Linked DNA regions of Homo sapiens: region 1 is linked to region 2. Evidence: fine-mapped expression QTL. Tissue or cell type: whole blood. Region 2 holds a variant in brackets; the other region holds the start of a gene. Each region is shown on its reference strand, or each on the opposite one.

Region 1 (9,789 bases), not on the chromosome of region 2:
TTATATGTCGAATTGAGTCTCCTCAAAATTTCTATGTTGGAGTCCTAACTCCCACGACCTCAGGATATGGCTCTATTTGGAAAGAAGGTCTCTAAAGAGGTAATTAAGTTAAAAAGAGGTCCATAGGGTGGGCCCCAAACCCACAAGACTACTGTCCTTATAAGAAGAGATTTGGCTAAGCACGGTGGCTCATGCCCGTAATCCCAGCACTTTGGGAGGCCGAGGCAGGAGGATCACGAGGTCAGGAGATTGAGACCATCCTGGCTAACACAGTGAAACCCCGTCTCTACTAAAAATATAAAAAATTAGCGGGGCGTGGTGGTGAGCGCATGTAGTCCCAGCTACTCTGGAGGCTGAGGCAGAAGAATGGCATGAACCCGAGAGGCGGAGCTTGCAGTGAGCCACTGCACTCCAGCCTGGGCAACAGAGTGAGACTCAGTCTCAAAAAAAAAAAAAAGAAGAGATTGGGGCACAGACACACACAGAGGGAAGACCATGCGAGGACATGGTGAGAAGGTGGCCATCTACAAGCCAAGGAGAGGGGCCTCAGAAGAAATCAACCCTGCCACCTTGATCTCAGACTTCTAGCCTCCAGAACTGTGACAAAATCGATTTCTGTCGTTTAAGCCTCCTAGTCTATGGTACTTTGTTATGGCAGCGCTGGCAAACTGAAAGCTGATAAAATCAGTCTTCATGACAATTTTTCAGAAACACTTCCTGACAGTATTTACAAGCACCAGAGAAAAACCAGCATGTAGGCTGGGTATGGTGGCTCACGCCTATAATCCCAGGACTCTAGGAGGCCAGGGTGGATGGATCACTTGAGGTCGGGAGTTCGAGACTAGCCTGGCCAACATGAAGAAAACCTGTATCTACTAAAAATACAAAATTAGCCGGGCGAGGTGGTGCATGCCTGTAATCCCAGCTACTCAGGAGGCTGAGGCAGGACAATCGCTTGAACCCAGGAGGCGGAGGCCGTGGTGAGCCAAGATTGCGCCATTGCACTCCAGCCTGGGCAACAGGAGCGAGACTCTGTCTCAAAAAAAAAAAAAAGAAAGAAAAAAAGAAAAACCAGCATGTCTACATGACAACAACAAAAAATCCAATGTGTATTTACCAAGGAGGAGATGGGGCCTTGCAAGGTCTAAGGCCCAGGACAGCGCCTCTGAACAAGCATTTGATGAGAATGACAAAGAGGAGTTGCTGCACAGCAGTCAGTCGGTAAGCAGTTAGCCACAGGCTGAATCAATGAGCATGGCATCTTATCATTATAGGTTACATATGTGCATGCGTGCAGGCGTGTATACACACACACACACACACACACACAGAGCCCTGAACCTAGCTTTTTTTTTTTTGCTCTCTTCCTCCATTCTTTCCATCCACAAGCGTCTGATAAGCACCAGGGTGAGCCAGACATTGGCACCATGCCCTGAGAACCCAAAGATAAACCTTTAAATGACTGCCTGAGTCACCAGGACCCAGAAGAGTCAGGCCAACAGCATTTGTTTGACTCTGGCACTGCCATGCCTCCTATGCCACATCTCAGGAGAATGCCAAACCCTGATCCACCCCAAACCTGCACCTTTTACAGAATCCCCCAGCTCAGTAAAAGGCAACTTCCCTCTCCCACTGCACAGACCAAAAACCCTGAAGCCATCCTTGCCTGCTCTCTTTCCCTCATCTAGCGGAGGTGACAGACATAGAGGAGACTCTGATACGGAGTGGAAAGTGCAACGTCAGCTGTTGTCAGAATCTGTCAGCGCAGAGCGGAAGGGCACCTGAGCCAGTCAGGGCTGGGAGAGAACTGGGGAAGAAATCAGGGGAGCATGCTGGATGGCATAAAGCCTGAGTGGAATACTTAAAGGGTGAGGAGGAGACAGCAAGAGAAAGGAAGAACATTCCAGAAGAGGGGCAAATAATTTGGTGCTGCCAGAGCCAAATATATCTAATAAGTGTAACGATGACTGATGGTAACAATGATAATGACTACTAAAATTTATTGAGCAACTGCCAAATATCGGGGATTGCCAAAATGTTTTATGAGTTAATCATTCAGTCCTCAACCAGCCTGTGAGGGTAGTAATATCATTAACTCCACTTTGCAGATGAGGGAACTGAGACCTGGAGGTAAAGTCACTTGCCCGAAGCCATCAGCTAGCAAGGAGCAGAGCCCAGGTTGAAACAAGGTGGGCTGGATCTTGGGACTGTGCCCTAGACCACCAGGCTCAATGCCTCCTGAGTAGAGGACTAAGAGTCAGGCACCCAGGACTCCGTACCAGCTCTGCAGCAGGACTGATGAGCTATTTCTAAAAGAACTGACCCTGCGGTTCAGGAAGACAAGCAGAGTCACAGGGGAAGCAGAAAAGTGCAGCCAACCACACCCACTCTCCCTAAAGTGAGTCAGAAATGGAAGGTTCAAGAAACTCACCTGTGTAAACCACAAGGAAAAGAGAAAACTGAAGAAAGAAGAAAACTCAAGGTCATCTGAGCCAGTAAATATCACACTACAGATTTCCGAGACAAGTCAGACCTGACCCCACATTTTGGGAACTAGCTTAAGAACAGGGCTGCCATCTTTATTTTACCAAATATGAACATGAAACAGATCTACCAGTTACCCCCATGAGTGGCTCTATCCAGCCACCATTTGCTGTGTGCCTTCCTCCTCGTGGGCTGTTGTTCCCTGCTCTCCCCTGGACTGCCTCATCCCTGAAGGCTGATTTCCCCAGAGTTCCACCCTCAGCCTCTTTTCAGGCCTCAGACGCTACCTCAGATCTGATCCACTCCTGGGGCTGCAACTACAACATACACCGCCCAATATCTCCCAAACCAGCCCAGCGCATTGGGGCCCTGGCCTTCCTCCCAAGCTTCTGACCTGAACAGCTGCCTCCTGGGCATGCTTCCAAACTAAAACCCTCTCTTGCTCTCTCAGTGAACAACACCCAGGCCACCGCAGGAACAGAGACTGAAGAGTCGTCACCTCTCACATATCCTCTCATCACACCGTCACCAGCTATCCCAAATTTCTCACACACATAGCCCTTGGAAAGCTCTAATCTAGATACTTCCAGACAGCTGCTTCCTAGAGGCATTTCCCAGTCACCCTGCATCTAGACAGGGTCACGAGACAGCTTCTGGTCAATGGGATGTGGGTGAAAGGAAATCCACCACTTCTAGACCTGGCCCACAAAAACCTCCCATGCATCCCTCTTTTCGATCAGCCCCCTCGAACTTGATAACCTAGGCTGGCCTCAAGAGCCATGTGCTGAGGGGCACAGAGCGGAGGTCAGTCAGCCTGCATCCCTGAATGACTGTATGGATCAAGGCCCCCACCCCATGCTCACTACTGGGCCTGACATGAGCAAGAAATATCTACTCTATTAAGACAAACATACACACACACACACAAAACAGGGAGCAAGCAAGAAAGGAGGGAGCAGGGGAGGAAGGAATTCTCCTTGATGACTAGCTTCCCAGTGGTTCCCCCACAACATCCTCCCTTAAATTGGCACCCACACCACTACCTTAGACTTCCTAAAACGCAAACCTGATGGTTGCTCTCTCCTGCCATTTTACCCGCCCCATCACCTCCAGGGTGAGGCCCAAATTCTTTAGCATAAACCTCAGCAATCCCTTCCACACATCCCACTGGCCACATGCTATGCACAGAACATGGACGCTAAGTGCTGGGGAGACAGCTGGAGCCTCTGCCCTCAGGGAGTTTCTATTCTACTGGCAGCTGGGTGCCATGAGGAAAATAAACAGTTCCCTGTGACCAAGAGTAAGGGGAGGAAAAATCCTCAAATGGGATGTGATCTTTAGGTTGAGGCCTGAAGGATTAACAAATAGGGCCAACCAAGAGCAAGAAGGGCATTCCAGGCAGAGCAAAGACTCCCAGAAATGCCCAGGCTCCCAGAAATGCCCGGGGGGGGGGGGGTGTTCCAGTCACAGAAGGGTCCTGGGTGGGCAGGGACCAGTGCCCCAGGACCTTGTGGGCGATGGCAGGGAGTCTGCATTTTCCAGTTTGTAAGCAGATTAATAGGGTTGAACTGGGTTTAAAGATCTCTACCAGCTGCTGGGCAGAGAAAACCTTCATTGTCTGGCCTCAAAGCTGGCAAGGGGCGACCCGCGGCGTCGTGGAGTTCCCCTAAGCCGCCGCCTCCCTCCCTCCCCACCCCACACGGCCACACCCGGGTGTTCCACCCGGCACTACCATGCTCTATGTAAATCACTCTCTCCCCCCAGGCGTCTAGAGGACCCCACTCGACCCTGAGTCCCTCGCACTGTGCCAGGTACTCCGCAGGTGCTCATTAAACGCTCGCTTTAGTGAATGACGGTGCGAGGTCAGGGCAGAGCCACCGAATTGTCTGCTCAAACTTCAAGTAGGACCCCCAAGCGGGCTGGAAGTGCGTGAGGGCGCGCAGGACCTCCGCCCGCCGTCGCTCCCGGCGCGGCGCCTTACCCGGCTCTCAGGAACTTGCAGGCGCCGTAGACCATGAACCTGCAGAGGTGGAGCTGCGCGCAGAGCCCCACGCAGCCCGGCTTGGAGCCCTGGTGCGCGCGACACAGGCGCAGCGGCGAGGCGGCCAGCACCACGCGCTCCGGGGCCGCGGCTGCGCCGCCCGCCCGCACCGCCACCACGAAGCGCCCACGCTGCCGCAGCAGCCGCTCCAGCGCGTCGGCGCTCAAGCCCATCCGCAAGCGGCGCCGCAGCTCGGGCAACTCCAGGGCGCCCCCGGCCGCGCACAGCACCTGGGTGACCTCACCGACGACGCCGGCCTGGGCCATGGCCGCTGGGCCTGCTCCCGTCGGACCGCGGGTGGCGCGACGCGGACGGCGGCGGACGCTGGCTGGCGGGCGGCTCTCGCAGGGTGGAGACGCCGGCGGGAAACGAAACCGAAAGCGGCCCCGGGCCGGCGAAAAACAGAACCTGTGCGCCCTCGCCACGCCCCCGGTCCGCAGCTGAGCGGCTGCGCCTTCCGCCTCAGGGCCCCCAGCTGTGAGGCCGCCGCCCGACGGAAGCTCGGGAGCTCTTGAGCTCGGGCGTTCGGCCCGGAGCGCGGGCTGTGGCTGTGGCGGCTCGCGGGGGTCAGTACCTAGTCCCTGAAAATGGCTTCCCTGGATGTTTGAGGGACCAGGAGCCCCTAATGCCGCGATGCTCAGCGCGCCTTCAGTCAGAGGGAGCCTCGAGGGCGGCGGCAGCGCTGGCGGAGCCGGCTGGACGCCGCCGGTTAAAGCCGCTCAGCGTCGCCCAGGCCAAGCCCGGGCTTCGTAGACGGCTCACAGAAACAGGGACAACTGACGGGAGCTCTCACCCCTCGAACAAGTGACAAAAGCGATCACTCCGCATAGAAGACGCACTTAATTAAAGGTTCCTTTCGCCTCGGTGCATCAATGAGTTCCTTCATTTAAACATAAAAGGGTATGTCCTTTAAAAGAGCAAATCCGTGAGCCGAGATTGCGCGACTGCACTCCAGCCTGGGCGACAGAGCGAGACTCCGTCTCAAAAAATAAAATAAAATAAAATAAAATCCGTTACTCCCAGCCCCTGCTAAGTAACGATTGAACAAATATTTTAGAAGACCCTTCAGAGCAAAGGACCCTCTCACACGCTGAGAGCAATGCGAGTTGTTAGAGCCCTTTGAGGAGGTAATCCAGGAATAGCTATTAAAATTGAAAACGCGTGTGACCTTTGACCCAGCAATCTTTCCTCTCGGAATCTTCCAGAAGTAAAAGGAACAGTAAATAAGTTATGTGTGAAAGTGTTACTGGGGGAACCCTACCTGGGAGGTAGGGTTACGTGGGAACAGTGTGGTTGATCTTTAAAGACTATTACGAAGGCTGTTTAACAAGCATGCGTTAGAGCTCCGTGTGCGGATGTAGAGGGGCAGACAGCCATGATGTGGTGGTAAACGAGAAAAGATGGCTGTACAGAAATGTCTAAATAATCAAGTTGAATGATCAAGAATTAATTTTTTTAAATGTCTGAATAACAAAAAGAGAAGCCTGTGTGTGTGTGTGTGGCAGGATATTTTTGAATAAGCACGGAGAAAGATGAAGAAACACACAAGGGTAGTTGAGAGGAGGCAGTAGGAGGTATTAGGAAAATGGAAAAGGGAAGATGAGAGGCAGAAGGATTGTGGGGGGAGAGTACTTACGGTATACGGTATAACATTCACTAAAAATGAATATAAAAATCTTAACTATAGGCCAGGCACAGTGGCTCACGCCTGTAATCCCAGCACTTTGGGAGGTCAAGGCGGGCGGATCACTTGAGGTCAGTAGTTTGAGACCAGCCTGGCCAACGTGGTGAAACCCCGTCTCTGCTAAAAACGTAAAAATTAGCCGGGCGTGGTAACGGGCGCCAGTAATCCCAGCTACTCGGGAGACAGGCAGGAGAATCGCTTGAATCCGGGAGGCAGAGATTGCAGTGAGCGGAGATCATGACACTGCACTCCAGCCTGGGCGACAGAGTGAGACTCCATCTTTAAAAAAAAAAAAAAAATTACCTGTACTATTACTACAAAAATGTAAATAATAAGTGTATGGATAAAGACTAGATAGTAACATGGACAAATGAAAATGAATTTATTTAATTAGGAAATTGAATGAAGGGTTTTCTCTTGGATTTTAATTGTGATTTTAATGTTTTCATTGTATAAAATGTTAATTTTGTTTTTGTTATTGTTTTAGAGACAAGGTCTTGGTCTGTCACCCAGGCTGTAGTATAATGGTACAGTCATAGCTCACTACAACCTGGAACTTCTGGGCTCAAGCGAACCTTCCACCTTAGCCTCCCAAGTAGCTGGGCCTAGAGGCACGTGCCACCATGCCCAGATAATTTTTATATTTTTTTGTAGAGACACTGTCTCATTTGTTGCCCAGGCTGATCTTGAACTCCTGGCCTCAAGCAGTCCTCCCACCTCAGATTCCTAAAGTGCTGGGATTACAGTGAGCCACCACGCCTAGCCTAAAATGTTAATTTTTAATTTAAAATGTTAGGCAGAGTGCAGTGGCTCACGCATGTAATCCCAGCATTTTGGGAGGCCGAGGTGGGTGGATCACTTGAGGTCAGGAGTTCAAGACCAGCCTGGCCAACTTGGTGAAACCCCATCTCTCCTAAAAATACAAAAATTAGCCAGGTGTGATGGTGTGTGCCTGTAATCCCAGCTACCTGGGAGGCTGAGGCAGGAAAATCGTTTGAACCAGGGAGGCGGAGGTTGCAGTGAGTCAAGATCGCACCGTTGCACTCCAGCCTGGGCAACAGAGCAAGACTCCGTCTCAAAAAAAAAGTTAATTTTAGTTGTGGTTTCCATATTTTTTTGCAATAAAATAACATTTTTTAAAAAAGAAAGGAAGAGTGATGTCAGTGAAAATGGTGGATTAAGTATCCCAGCAAGTTTGCCCTTCCATAAAGGAAGCAAGGAAAGAACTGACAAAAATTGTCAGAATCAACTTTCTTAGAGCCCTAGAAATTAGTCACAGGTTTGCAGCAACCCATCTGGCATTTAGTCAGGAAAAACAGCAAACTCTCAGTAAGAACAGCAATATTTATAGTATTTTAATTTACCCTAGTCCTATCGCACCCCCATCTCTAGTTCCATGGCAGCCTTGAAAACTTACAGCCCACGTTCCTAGTACCTGTACCAGAGGGAGGAGACAGGGCTGGAGCTACTTCAAAGTCTCATTCCCAAAGAAGAGTCATTATTTAACCTATCTAGTGGGTCCCTGGAAAAAAATCCTGAAAAGGGTTGTCTTTATTCAACCTCTTTGGAACTAGCTCAGTCCTAAAGGTTTTTCCACCTGAAGAGGGAGTGATTTGTCAAATATTTTAACATTGTAACTGGCTGAGGCAATAGGTAACGGTAGGGGCAAACAATAGACTAACAAAGAAATGTAAAAGGAAACGTTGAAGGAAGAGATGTCCATAGGGGCTTTGAAAAGCTCCAGTATATTTTCAGGAATTTAGAAGGCCATGTGCATGTGTAGGGCTGTGCACATGCTCTGTTAACACCTGAGAAGATCCTAACCTCTCACTACTAGCTGACACTGAGGCTCTGTGCTAGCAGGAAATAAAAGCTATGCAGAGTTGCAAACTGCCTAATGAAAATTGAAGACATACCCCAAAGTGCATACAGAGCCCCTTGGCAAAGACTAGGAGACATATTGGTTCCAGGTGTTTAAGGAAATCTCCATCTAATCATTAGTTGACCAAGTAGAGACTTCAATAGTCACACACAATGAAGATACACACTTTAAAAAATTAGTTCAAAAAAGTTACTAAACAGCAACTATTAGGTTGGTGCAAACCGCAATTATTTTTGCACCAACCTAATACTAAAATAAGCACAATCAAACCCTGAGGAGAGAGGAGTATCTGACTTTGAGAGTTGGCACATTGTTTGAAATGTCCAATTTTCAACTAAAAATTATGTGACTTGCAAAGAAACAAGAAAGTAAGACCCATACAAAGGAAATAAGAGCAATCAATAAAAACTGTTCCTAAGAAAACCCAGATGCTGAACTTTGTAGACAAAGAGTGTAAATCAGCTATTTTTGATATGTTCACAGAGCTAAAGGAAACCATCTCTAAAAATGTAAAAGAAAGGATGAGAATGATGCCTTGCCAAACAGAATATTAATAAAGACACAGAAATTATAATAAGGAACCAATAAAGGTTCTGGAGCCAAAAAGTACAATAACTGAAATGTTAAATTCACTAGAAGGGTTCAGCAGCAGATTTGAGCATGCGAAAGAAAAAAAAAATCAGCAAACTTGAAGATAGATCAATTGATGATTATCTGGTCTGTGGAACAGAAACGAAAAAGAAAAATGAAAAGAGCCTCAGAGACCTGTGGGACACCATCAGATATACCAATAACACAAAATGGAAGTCTTAGAAGGAGAAGAGAGAGAGAGAAAGGAAAGCGAGAATATATGAAGAAATTTTGGCTAAAATTTCTCAGATTTGATGAAAAACATTAATCTACACATCCAAGAAGCTTAATGAATTCCAAGTAGGAAAAACTCAAATAGATCTACACCTAGACACATCATAATCAAACTTTTGAAAACAAAGAGAATCTTGAAAGCAGCAAGAAAGTAGCAACTCATCATGCACAAGGAATCAACAATAAAATAAAAACAGTTAACTTCTCATCAAAAACCATGCATGCAGAGGGTAGTGTGATGATGTATTCAAAATGTGAAAAGAATCAACCAAGAATTTTATATCCAGCAAAACTATCTTTCAGAAATGAAGGAGAAATTAAGATATTCCCAGATAAACTAAAGCTGAGCCCGTTAGTTGCTAGCACTGGGAGAAACACTAAAGAGAGTCGTTTGGGCTGAAAGTGAAAGACACTAAACAGCAACTGGAATTCTCATGAAGAAAGAAAAGCACCAGTAAAGGTAACTACACAGGTAAATGAAAAAGACAGTATAAACGTATTTTTTGTTTGTAACCCCCATCATCTGATTTAAGACAACTACATAATGCAGTAATTACAAATATAAGTTGATGGACAATGTTTTGAAGATGTAATTTGTGACAATAACAGCAGAAGGAAATGGGGAAGGAAAGTGAAGCCATAGAGAAGCAGTTTTTATATTCTGTGGAAATTAAATTGGTATTAATCCAAACTGGATTTTTATAAATTAAGATGTTGCTGGTAATTCCTAGTGCAACCAATAACCAATAAAATACATGAGGCCGGACACAGTGGCTCACGCCTGTAATCCCTGCATTTTGGGAGGCCGAGGCGGGTGGATCACCTGAGGTCAGG
Region 2 (9,854 bases):
TGGATAATATAATGGAAAGTTAAGAGACATAACATATAAACTCAGGAAGTTTGAGGAATAAAGGGCAGAGAAGGCAGAGGGGAAGAGGTTCTTACAGAATGAATGCAAGGGAATTTCCCCAAACTGTAAAAGAAAATACATTTTTCAGGGCCCACAAAATGTCCAGCACAAAATATGAGAAAAGACTTTTACCTAAACACATAATTGTGAAATTCTATAATATTGATTATAAAGATAAATTTTATATTCTTCCTTAGGAAAAAAAAAGTATCATGTGAAAGAAGCAAGAATTGGACTGACCACACACTTGTCATTGCCAATCAGATGCTGCAAAACAATGGATCTGTTTTTCAGAGTTCTGAAATAAAATGCTAATCAAACTAGAATCTGCTTAGCTAAGACACTGCCAAATATGAAGACCAAATAAAAGATTTTCAGATGTGTCATAATTCAGAGTTTATACTCCAAGCATTCTTTTGTAGAAAGGAACTCAAGGGTGTATTTCAGCAAAATAAAGAAGTAAAGTACTAGAGCCATCACTCAGAGAGCAAATGACCAGACCAGATGCTAACAACAAACATTGTGTGACTTCCTATCTCCAGCCACTTCTGAAGTCAGATCTATTTTCTTGAGTAAGTAATTTTTTTCCAAGTTTGGGTTGTTTTTCATACCATTTGGAACCAAGAGTTCTGGTAGTCACAATAATGTTTGGAGATACTAGATGGACTGTAAAAGCAGAATCTCTATGTACGTTCTCCGCTGAACAGCACGGGAATTGGTGCCACAGAGAAAGAAATGTGATCCTACCAAACCAGTTAGCTCAAGAGCAATGCTTAGGTAGCCATAGCAATTTAAACTGTTTATTGATTTAAAATTTTTAGAAGTCACTGAGACCTTTATAGTCAGAGAAATTGTCAACCTTGACAAGTATAAAGGTAAATGTACATGTAACCAAAGTCGGGAAGTGAAAGAGAGTGAAGAAAGGTAGGTAAGGTAGACAGAGGGCAGGAAAGCCCATGTCCTCATCTCCCAAAGCAGGTAGTGAAGAGATCTGCCCTGTGAAGACCAGAATAAGAATTGGAGGTACACTTAACAGTCCCTGCCATGTCATCAACAAATGGTGTTGAGAACACATTGTAGGAAGGGAAATGCTTACATTCATAGAAATACAGAAGCCATATGATTTTTAAATATCATTTCAGAAGTTCAAAAATAAGTCTACAAACTCATGTGATGGATATTAGGTCTATTCCTAAGTAGTCTCATACTATAGATGGAATTTGTGCTTGGCGTCTTTTTCCCTTTTTAGGAACATTTGGTCCACAGTGCAGTTCAAAAAAAAAAAAAAATGGGTAAAGGACCAAAGCAGGCAGTTCATGCAGGCAAACCCACACATTCACAAAAGGTGAAAATATAAAAATAAAAATGTTAAATATTACCAGGAATCAAAGAAATGCAAAATAAAATATCAAAATAGGATCATTTTAATTTGGATTATCAGAGATTAAAAAGATTGGAGAACCACACTGGTAGCAAGGCTGTAGAGAAGTTGGCACTTTCATAATCAGCTGGTGGTAGAAGAAGGACTGAAAACTTTCTGGAGGGAAGTTTACGAGTAAATGTCAAAATTATGCATATTTTTTGGTATAGCAAATCTAACTCTAGGAATGTACTTTAAGGTTAACATTGGATAAATGTACAAAGATGCAAGTTCAAGAATACTTTTTGAAACTTTGTTTACAATATCCAGAAATTAAAACTATTTAAGAATTCATCCAGACAAAATTAGATAAATAAATTATGTAACACATAAAAATGAATGGTGCAGGTCTAAATTGGTTGACATGGAAAATGTCTACATTCTGTTGCTTAGTATATATAATACGACTTTATTTTTGTGGAGGGGAAGAAGGAAATGTTTATGTAGCTGTGTACATAGTGAAAACTCTGGAAATACATGTCTCAGAGCCATGAGTACCAAGGTGGGGCTTGGTGCCATGGTCTGCCCTGGAAGCAGATAAAAAAAGCGGTGCAATGTCTACGGTATATTTGTAAATAGTAGTAATTCTCACTAAAAGTTGGTCTTCTCTTTATTATCACCATGTCCAGAAAATCTAAACTATTTTCAAGATAGAACATTTTTTCCTGCTGAGGCAGATGACTCTACTCCTACCATACCCCTTCCTTGGTGTGCTATTCCATCAGAGGTAAAAAATATGGTATCCCAGTGAGAAAATAAAATTAGGTGAGAGGGCCAGCTAATCAAGAAAGTTATAGAACATATTTCTTTGTGTAAGTAAAAAATATCAGGGTCAAGTATAGGACCTTCCAGTCCTTGCCTGGTCTCCGCTGTGGACTTCCTGGACTCCGTGTCCTCTAGTTTGGCCGCTGGCCCATCAGAGGGAGCCATGCCACAAATGCAGCCTTTTTCTTTCATGAGCTTGAATGATTTTTTTTAAAGTCTTATTCCCATGGCAAGTTTGAATTTTAAAAGAGAATCACTAAAAATGCCATGCTTTAATCTAAAGTAATGAATATCTTAACGGTGGTGAATTTAGGCAGCATGGCTGGCTGATGGGAAAGTTATGTAACTATTTCAGGAAGTAGATTTTAAGGCAGTAAAGAGACTAGGAAAGGAGAAGACAGAAATTTGTGTAGCATATCTTACATCATATCGTCATATCATACTGTTACAATGTGTAAGGCCAGGCCTCAGGTTTTCCAGATATAAATCAGATGCTATCATGAAAAAATTAACTGGCCCTGACTCAAGGTCTGTGTAGTTTTAAGCCCATGCATACATAATGTTTCTTATGTGTCTGGTAGAAGGCACTGGGAAAGAAAAAGAGAATGATAGGAACATAAGATTTATGGATGAAAAAATAATAAAGACATTACCAAAATGGGCTAAGTCCTTGCTCAAATGTTACCTTCTAAATTAGGCCCAATTCCCCATTTAAAATCAGCTCCCCTTAGCTTCCCATTTTTCTGATCTTACTTTCTTCCCCCCCATAGATCTTACCACCATCCAACATCTTAAAACATTTATTATTTTTATTGCTTATTGCCTCTTTTCCCTGCATGGAGCTCCATGAGGGCAAGTACTTTTGTTTGTTTTGCTCATATATCCCAAGAGCTGAGGAACAATGCTTGGCATAAAATAAGTATTTAATCAATATCGTTGCCTGAATGAATTAATGAATGAATGACAGAGAGGATACGGAGCTGTCCTGCGGCCCTCCATGGCCCAGGCTAGACAACACCAAGAGGGAGCACTTCCAGGTGTTACCAGGAAAGGGTCAAGCTCCTTTTTTTTATTAAACAATTAGACGTTAACTATTGTTATCTAAAAATGGGCATTTAATCCTTGTGCTACTGCTTCAGGGTGCCTTTCAAGATAAATTGTAGGTTTTAAAAAAATTGTAATGTGGAGAATTAGTAATAGGAGAGTTTACTGCAGCTATTCAGTTATTTTTCCTGAGAACTGAGGAAAGATTACCAGCTATTTATGAGAAGTATCTGTTTTATGGATTAGTAAATTGAGAATTAGTTGAACTCCATGTCTACTTCCTTTTGACATTTTAATTAGTGAAATTTGAATGAATGCATTATCTAATAATACTGTGTTCCACTGTGATTCTTTTCAGCAATTGTAATTTTTATAAAAATATATAATAGTACTAGAATACTATAATTAATTATAAGAACAATCATTTGATTAAATTCTGGAAATGCTAGAAATCTCGAAAAATCCTTGTGAGGTTCATGTGCCAAAACTGTGGGACTCTTTTTTTATAACAAGTGATTTACCATGCTTTTGGGGGATGACTTGGTATAACATCAATTTTAGTGGCAATGCTAAGCTGATGTAGACAAGGAGTTGTCTGGGGGCCTCTGAGCTCTGCAAAGCCTTTGGGGCCATCTGGACCATCAGGCTGCTGAGGGATTGCGCTTTCCCTCCAATTGGCACAAACTCTGATGCAGCAAGTTCTCCCTTTCATGCTGCCTCCTCCTCCAGACTCATCCTCTGGAAGAAAGCGTCACAGGGGAGGGAGTTGTGAAGAAGGATGGAGGAAGCAGTAGGCAGGAGAAAGGAAAGCCGGGGAAGGTGGACTCTGTGGAACTGCACAATCTGTTCAGGCATTAATTTACTGTCCTATTATGTGACTGCCACTACCATGGGCAGGACTTTGTGTAGCAGACAAGCCCAAGTTTTAAGACAAAGAGTATTTGATCTCCCCACACCCCATCTTTTAAAGCGTTAAAAGACTACTAGTCTGGACTAGACTACCAGTCTAAGGCAGTGAAGAGAGTGTTCTGGGAAAGCAGAGACCCACAGACACCAGCATGGGGTCATAAATATAAAGCCT[A/G]GAAGGGTGGAATTTCCCTGAGGAAGAAGAAAGAAAATGAAGGCAATGATTGCATTAGAAGATGAAGCTACTAATGTCAATGGCAGAACTGCTCAGCATCTCTACCCATGCAGATCAGCCCTGGAGAGTCAGGAAAAGTAAAGACAAGACAGTATTCTAATGGTGTCAATACATGTATGGGCTACCATATTGTGCCATTGATATCTTTTTCATTTGGGGTTATGTTTCTCATGTTTTGACCAATGCAGTTGCTGAACCTGAGTTTTGACTATACCCTTTACTCAGTTGTCACTTTGATCTTTGGGAAAAATATAGGAAAAGAAAGGCAATGGGAGTGAACAGACATGAAGAGCCAGAGGGTCAGAGTACGTCCTAGCCTTGCTCGCATGTGGGGAAGTATAAGACACAAAAATGAATCAGAGCCTTGTTCTGCTTTTCCTCCCTTACTTCAAACACTGCTAATGATTTTGCCTTGGTAAAAAAGAGACTACTTTATATTCTCTTTTAAACTGAGTTCCCTGGAAACAGATTTTGAGATGAAGAGATGCAAACAGAGTCAGCTTATTTTTTTGGAAGGAGTAAGGGGGAGTTGCTCTTACAAGAGACACCTGTAGGAAAGTGAAGGAAACAGCATGGGGCAGAGTGAAATGCTGAACTGCAGTACAGTGTCAAAGGAGGCCTCAGCCAGCCCTTCAGAGACTTCAGGATTTGGACTGTCCCTTCAGAGTTGTCTCAAGTGGAGTAAATGAAACAGACTTATGCCCCTCATCAGTCATTATTTGGCTTCAGGCTACCCTCCAGAGGGCATAGCCTGAGAGGAAATAGTTCCCCACAGCCTAGGACAATACTCGTTAAGAGAGGCAGCTGTGAGCTGTCAGCAGCCATATTCATAGCCCCAGGAAGGTGAGTACCTTGGCCCTGAAGAGGGAATCTTCACAAAGAATCTGTTTTGGTCCATTCCTCTGCTATAACAAAATACCTAAGACTGGGTAATTTATAAACAATAGCAATTTATTTCTCACAGTTCCAAAGGATGCAAAGTCCAAGATTAAAGCACTGGCATTTGGGTGTCTGGTGAGGGCCTTCTTGCTGTGTCTTCATATGACAAAGAGTGGAAGGGCGAAAGGAGCCTAATAGCTGACTCCCGTAAGCCTTTTTATAAGGGCACTAATTCCACACATGAGGACAGAGCCCTCATAGTCTGATAACCTCCTACAGACCCTTCTTAATACTATCACATTGGGTCTTAGGTTCCAACATGTGAATCTTTAGGGGACACACACTTTCAAACCATAGCAGGACCACAGTGTCCATTACGTGGTCTTATAATTAATTGTTTTATGATACAAAGATGGGCGCAACCAGAAAGAGAAGACTTCAAAGAGTTAAGAGAAAAATAAGGGACTTTAAAGCCAGGTAATAACCCTCAAGAAGAAAACTGGGACTTCATATTTAAACAAACTGTGTCTATGTCTTTCTTAAAAAAATGAAATGTCTAGAACACTATCTGGTACAGTAGCCACTAGCCACATGTATCTATTGAGCACTTGAAATGTGGCATGTCCAAATTGAGATGTGCTATAAGAGTAAAATAGCACATCACAACAATTTTTAAAGACTTAGTAGGAAAAAAATTTGAACTATCTTATTAATAATTTTATATTGGTAGCATGTCTATAATATTTTGACTATATTGAATTGAGTTATTAAATTTAATTTTACCTACTTCTTGTGACTTTTTAAAATGTAGCTATTAAAAATTTTTAAATTAGTTGTGTGTATCTCACTATAGTTTTATTGGACAGAGCTGGTCCAGGATAATCTTAAAGTCTGATAAAGTTGTTATCTCAGGCCACAGACTATAGCAGAGTAGAAATGGAAAAAACAACATAATGGACATTCTCGTTATGCAACATTCTCAGTAACACATTTCCCTGGCCTTTCTAAATTGGTAACCTTTTGGGCTCCTCATTTAGCTATTGAGAGGCTGTATTAGCTCAGGCTGCCATGCAAAATGCCAAAGACTGGGTGGCCTGAACAACAGAAATTAATTTTCTCCTCACAGTTCTGGAGGCTGTAAGTCTGAGATCAGGGTGTCAGCATGGTCAGGTTCTGGTGAGGGCTCTCTTCCTGGCCTGCAGACAGCCACCTTCCTACTATATAATCACAAGGTAGAGGGGTGGGGGAGTGGGAGGAGCTCTCTGGTTTCTTCTTCTGCAAGGGCACTAATCCCATCAAAAGGGCCACACCTCATTACCTCATCTAAACCTAATTAACTCTCAAAGGACCCATCTCCAAATACCATCACAGTGGGAGTTAAGACTTCAATATACAAATTTGGAGTTCATAAAAAAAATTCAGTTCAAAACAGAGACCAAAATAGCACCTAGGTCATACCACTAGTTTGCCCTCATTGACAGAGTGGAAATGAGCATAGTAAGTACTCAAGACTCATTATGTTCACTCTTCTAGGAAACCAGAATCTCTGGGAAGTTAAAAGGTTTGCTCTATTCCTATTCAAAAGAGATTCTGACTTGCTTTAAACATTTTCCTCAGGACAAGAGAATTGTATCTGCCATGGCTCAGTGTGGATAGACTATGAAACAGCTGGAGCCCAGTGAGCAAATTTTTGGGTACAATAAAATAGTTATTCCGTATGCCAGGAATATGACTACATGTGGCACTAGTTGATGACCAAGCAGAACTATGAGTCATATTTAGGGCAAAAATAAGGTGATGCGAATAAATTACTTGCATTTGTTTCTATCACCAACTGTGCTATACTTTCATATTTATTTTATTTATTGCCATCAATGTCATGCTAGCCTGCTTTCCCTAGCTCATGATTTTATTTGAACATCATCCAGAGCCACTCATTCCTCCCATTCCCCCTCCCACTGCCAATGACCAAATCCAGATTTTTGTTAACCTCAGCCAGAATGACTGCAACCAGCTTTTTCCTTGATCTTTTTCCTTCCACTTTTTTTCTTCAATCTTTGATTTAGCCCATTAACTCCTTGTAGGTCATCTTTTCTAAAACATGCCATTTCCCTGCTCAAGAATAACTTCATATTAGTTATCAATCAAACCCAGATACAGTATAGCATTCTAGTACACAAGCAAAATGTATTAGGCTTTCTTCTTCTTTCTTGATCTTTATCTCTTTTTGGAAAAAACTTCTTACTCTTTTCCTGTCTTTAAATTATATTAAATATGGATCTAACACCTCATATATGTAAGACATTATTTGAATTATTTATTTATTCTAATTCAGAATCTTTTCTAAAATAATCCAGAACTTCTCTGATTGATCCCTGACTTTTATAAACTCTACAGTGCCTATAATTTGTATACCATGTTGTTGTTGTATGCTTATATTTCTTCTAATAGTTTTATGCCTATAATCATTGGACTCTCAACCAATTTGTTAACTCTCCAAGGTCAGAGATTACATTTTATATCACAAATCAGAAAACGAAATTAATATTTATTGAATGCTTCCTCTGTGCCAGTAACTGTAACATGTGTTCAACATTTGTTATTGAGAAATCTCTGAGTCCACTTTTTTGTGTGTATGCATGCTCTGCCTTCATCATTTCCACATTGCCCTACCAGAGAGCCCTGACTACTCATGCCAGATAACACCAACCCAAGTAAGTAGCAGGTTTACTAGTGTTTTAGGACAATGATGGTGGAATTTCCACTAGTAATTTCTTCTACTTGGGTTCCAGCCTCCTGCCTGTTCCAAGGACTTTGTCTTTCTTCAACATTTTCTTGCTTCCTTTCTAGCTCTTTCTAAATGATCCTGTTTTGTGCAAAACAGTTAAGCTATTTCCTTGATTCATTCCCAGTAGAGTCACAACAAGGTCTCATCTTAAAAAATAAATCCACCCATTAGGGGTTTCTAAAGCAAAGACAGTTTCTCTTTCTGTCTCTCTCTTTCTCTCTCTCTCTAAAACAAAGGCAGTTTAGTTTTTTGCAAGCTATAATTTTTTTATCTACTATGCAAACATTTTCTCATTTAATCCCCCCAACAATCCATTTCACAGCAGCTAGTGATATACATTTATTGCTTACTATGCACCAGGCACTGTTCTAAATGCATTATTCATATTATTTCATTTAACCTGCACTATAAACACAAGACACAGGTCTTGTTATTATTCACATTTTACAGACTGGGATGAAGATAAGCAATTTGTCTAAGAGTAAGCAAAAGAGCTGGAATAAAAACCTAGGCAGTCTGATTCCAGAGCGCAAACCCTTGATGTTGCTGTCCTGGCCCACAGAGAAGGAAACAGACATAAGAGGTTAAGTGATCTTCTGTGGTCACTCAGATGGTGACTAATGTTACTGAAGTCCTTGCTGTGTCCGCCAGGGTCTCATGTACCATTCTTTGCTTTGTTAGGGAAAGCATTGCTGTCCTTCCCTTGTTGCCCTCACTTGGCTTCCCCAACAGGTACTTAACGTAACTTAATTGTGTATATTAAATTCACGGAGATCTGAAGGGGAGGTCAGTACTTTTATAAGACTTATCCTCAATTTCTCCTTTTGTTTGATTTCCTCATATCTTGTCTATCAACAAATCTGCCACCAATATGCCTCTTTTCTAGTCCATTCCATCACTATCGCCCTATTCCACACAATAGACTTGCTTAGTGCCATCTAACTGCTCTCTCTGCTTCTATTTTGTCCCTTTCAACCAATTTGTCAGAGTAGCTGGAGTGTATATCAATTCTTGTCACTCCCTGGATGAAAATCTCCAGCAGCTTCTGATTATCTTCAGACTGAAATCCAGCTCCAGACAGTGGCCAACGGGGCCCTGTGTGAGCTGGCTCTGCCCTTTTTTCCAACCTCATTTTAGGTCATTCTCCTTACTCATCACTCTTCAACCACCCTGGCCTTTTTGCAGTTCCTTGAACATTCCAGGCTTTCTTCACATGGGACTCATGCTATGCAGTTGTTTTTGTCCGGGAAGTCTCTTCCCTCCACCCTTTAAGGTGGTCCTTTTCTTGTTTTCCTCTTCTTGTTTTCCAAGTGACCCTCTAAAATGTCACCTCCATTCAGAGTCCATCCTTAACCTTTATATTCGCTACATGCCATGTCTGTTTCTTATGTAATAGATGGGTAAATAAATGGTGAGTAGATCCACTGGAGAATGGGTATATAAAATAGATGATATTGAACAGATAAATAAGTGCAATGGCTACTAGATCCATTGGAGACATAAAGCAAAAATACATACAATGACTAGAAAACAAGTCTAAGGTAATATGTAAACAATGTTTGCCAGTGTGTACAGATTAAAAGCATGATGTGTGAGGGAAGCTAAAATAAAAGAGAGAAGATTAACATAGGGGCTTACTCAGAGATGATTTATTAGAGGTTGTGAGACTTTGCTGTGAAATACTGCATGGTTTTGGACTGGAGGAAATTTTTATGCATAGAGGGAAACTGTAAGAAATCTAACTTGATAGGCTCAGA

The links. PIP is the estimated chance that this variant, and not a neighbour inherited with it, causes the effect.
Region 1: PARP12 starts here. The variant in region 2 is the best candidate, but not a certain one, in a credible set for the expression of PARP12 in whole blood (TOPMed, PIP 0.78).

What each region holds. Positions count from the first base shown.
Region 1 is chr7:140,058,057-140,067,845 of GRCh38, forward strand. It overlaps PARP12 (poly(ADP-ribose) polymerase family member 12), which reads right to left and starts at 4,895. Exons shown (of 12, transcript NM_022750.4): 1 at 4,466-4,895. The coding sequence starts at 4,791. RefSeq lists a silencer at 4,503-4,822 and an enhancer at 4,833-5,042.
Region 2 is chr2:162,249,656-162,259,509 of GRCh38, forward strand. LOC105373724 (a long non-coding RNA gene) reads left to right here. Exons shown (of 4, transcript XR_923544.3): 3 at 258-632. Among named protein-coding and RNA genes, the nearest start is that of FAP, 11 kb to the left of the region's middle. The variant A/G (reference allele first, on the strand shown) is at 4,371.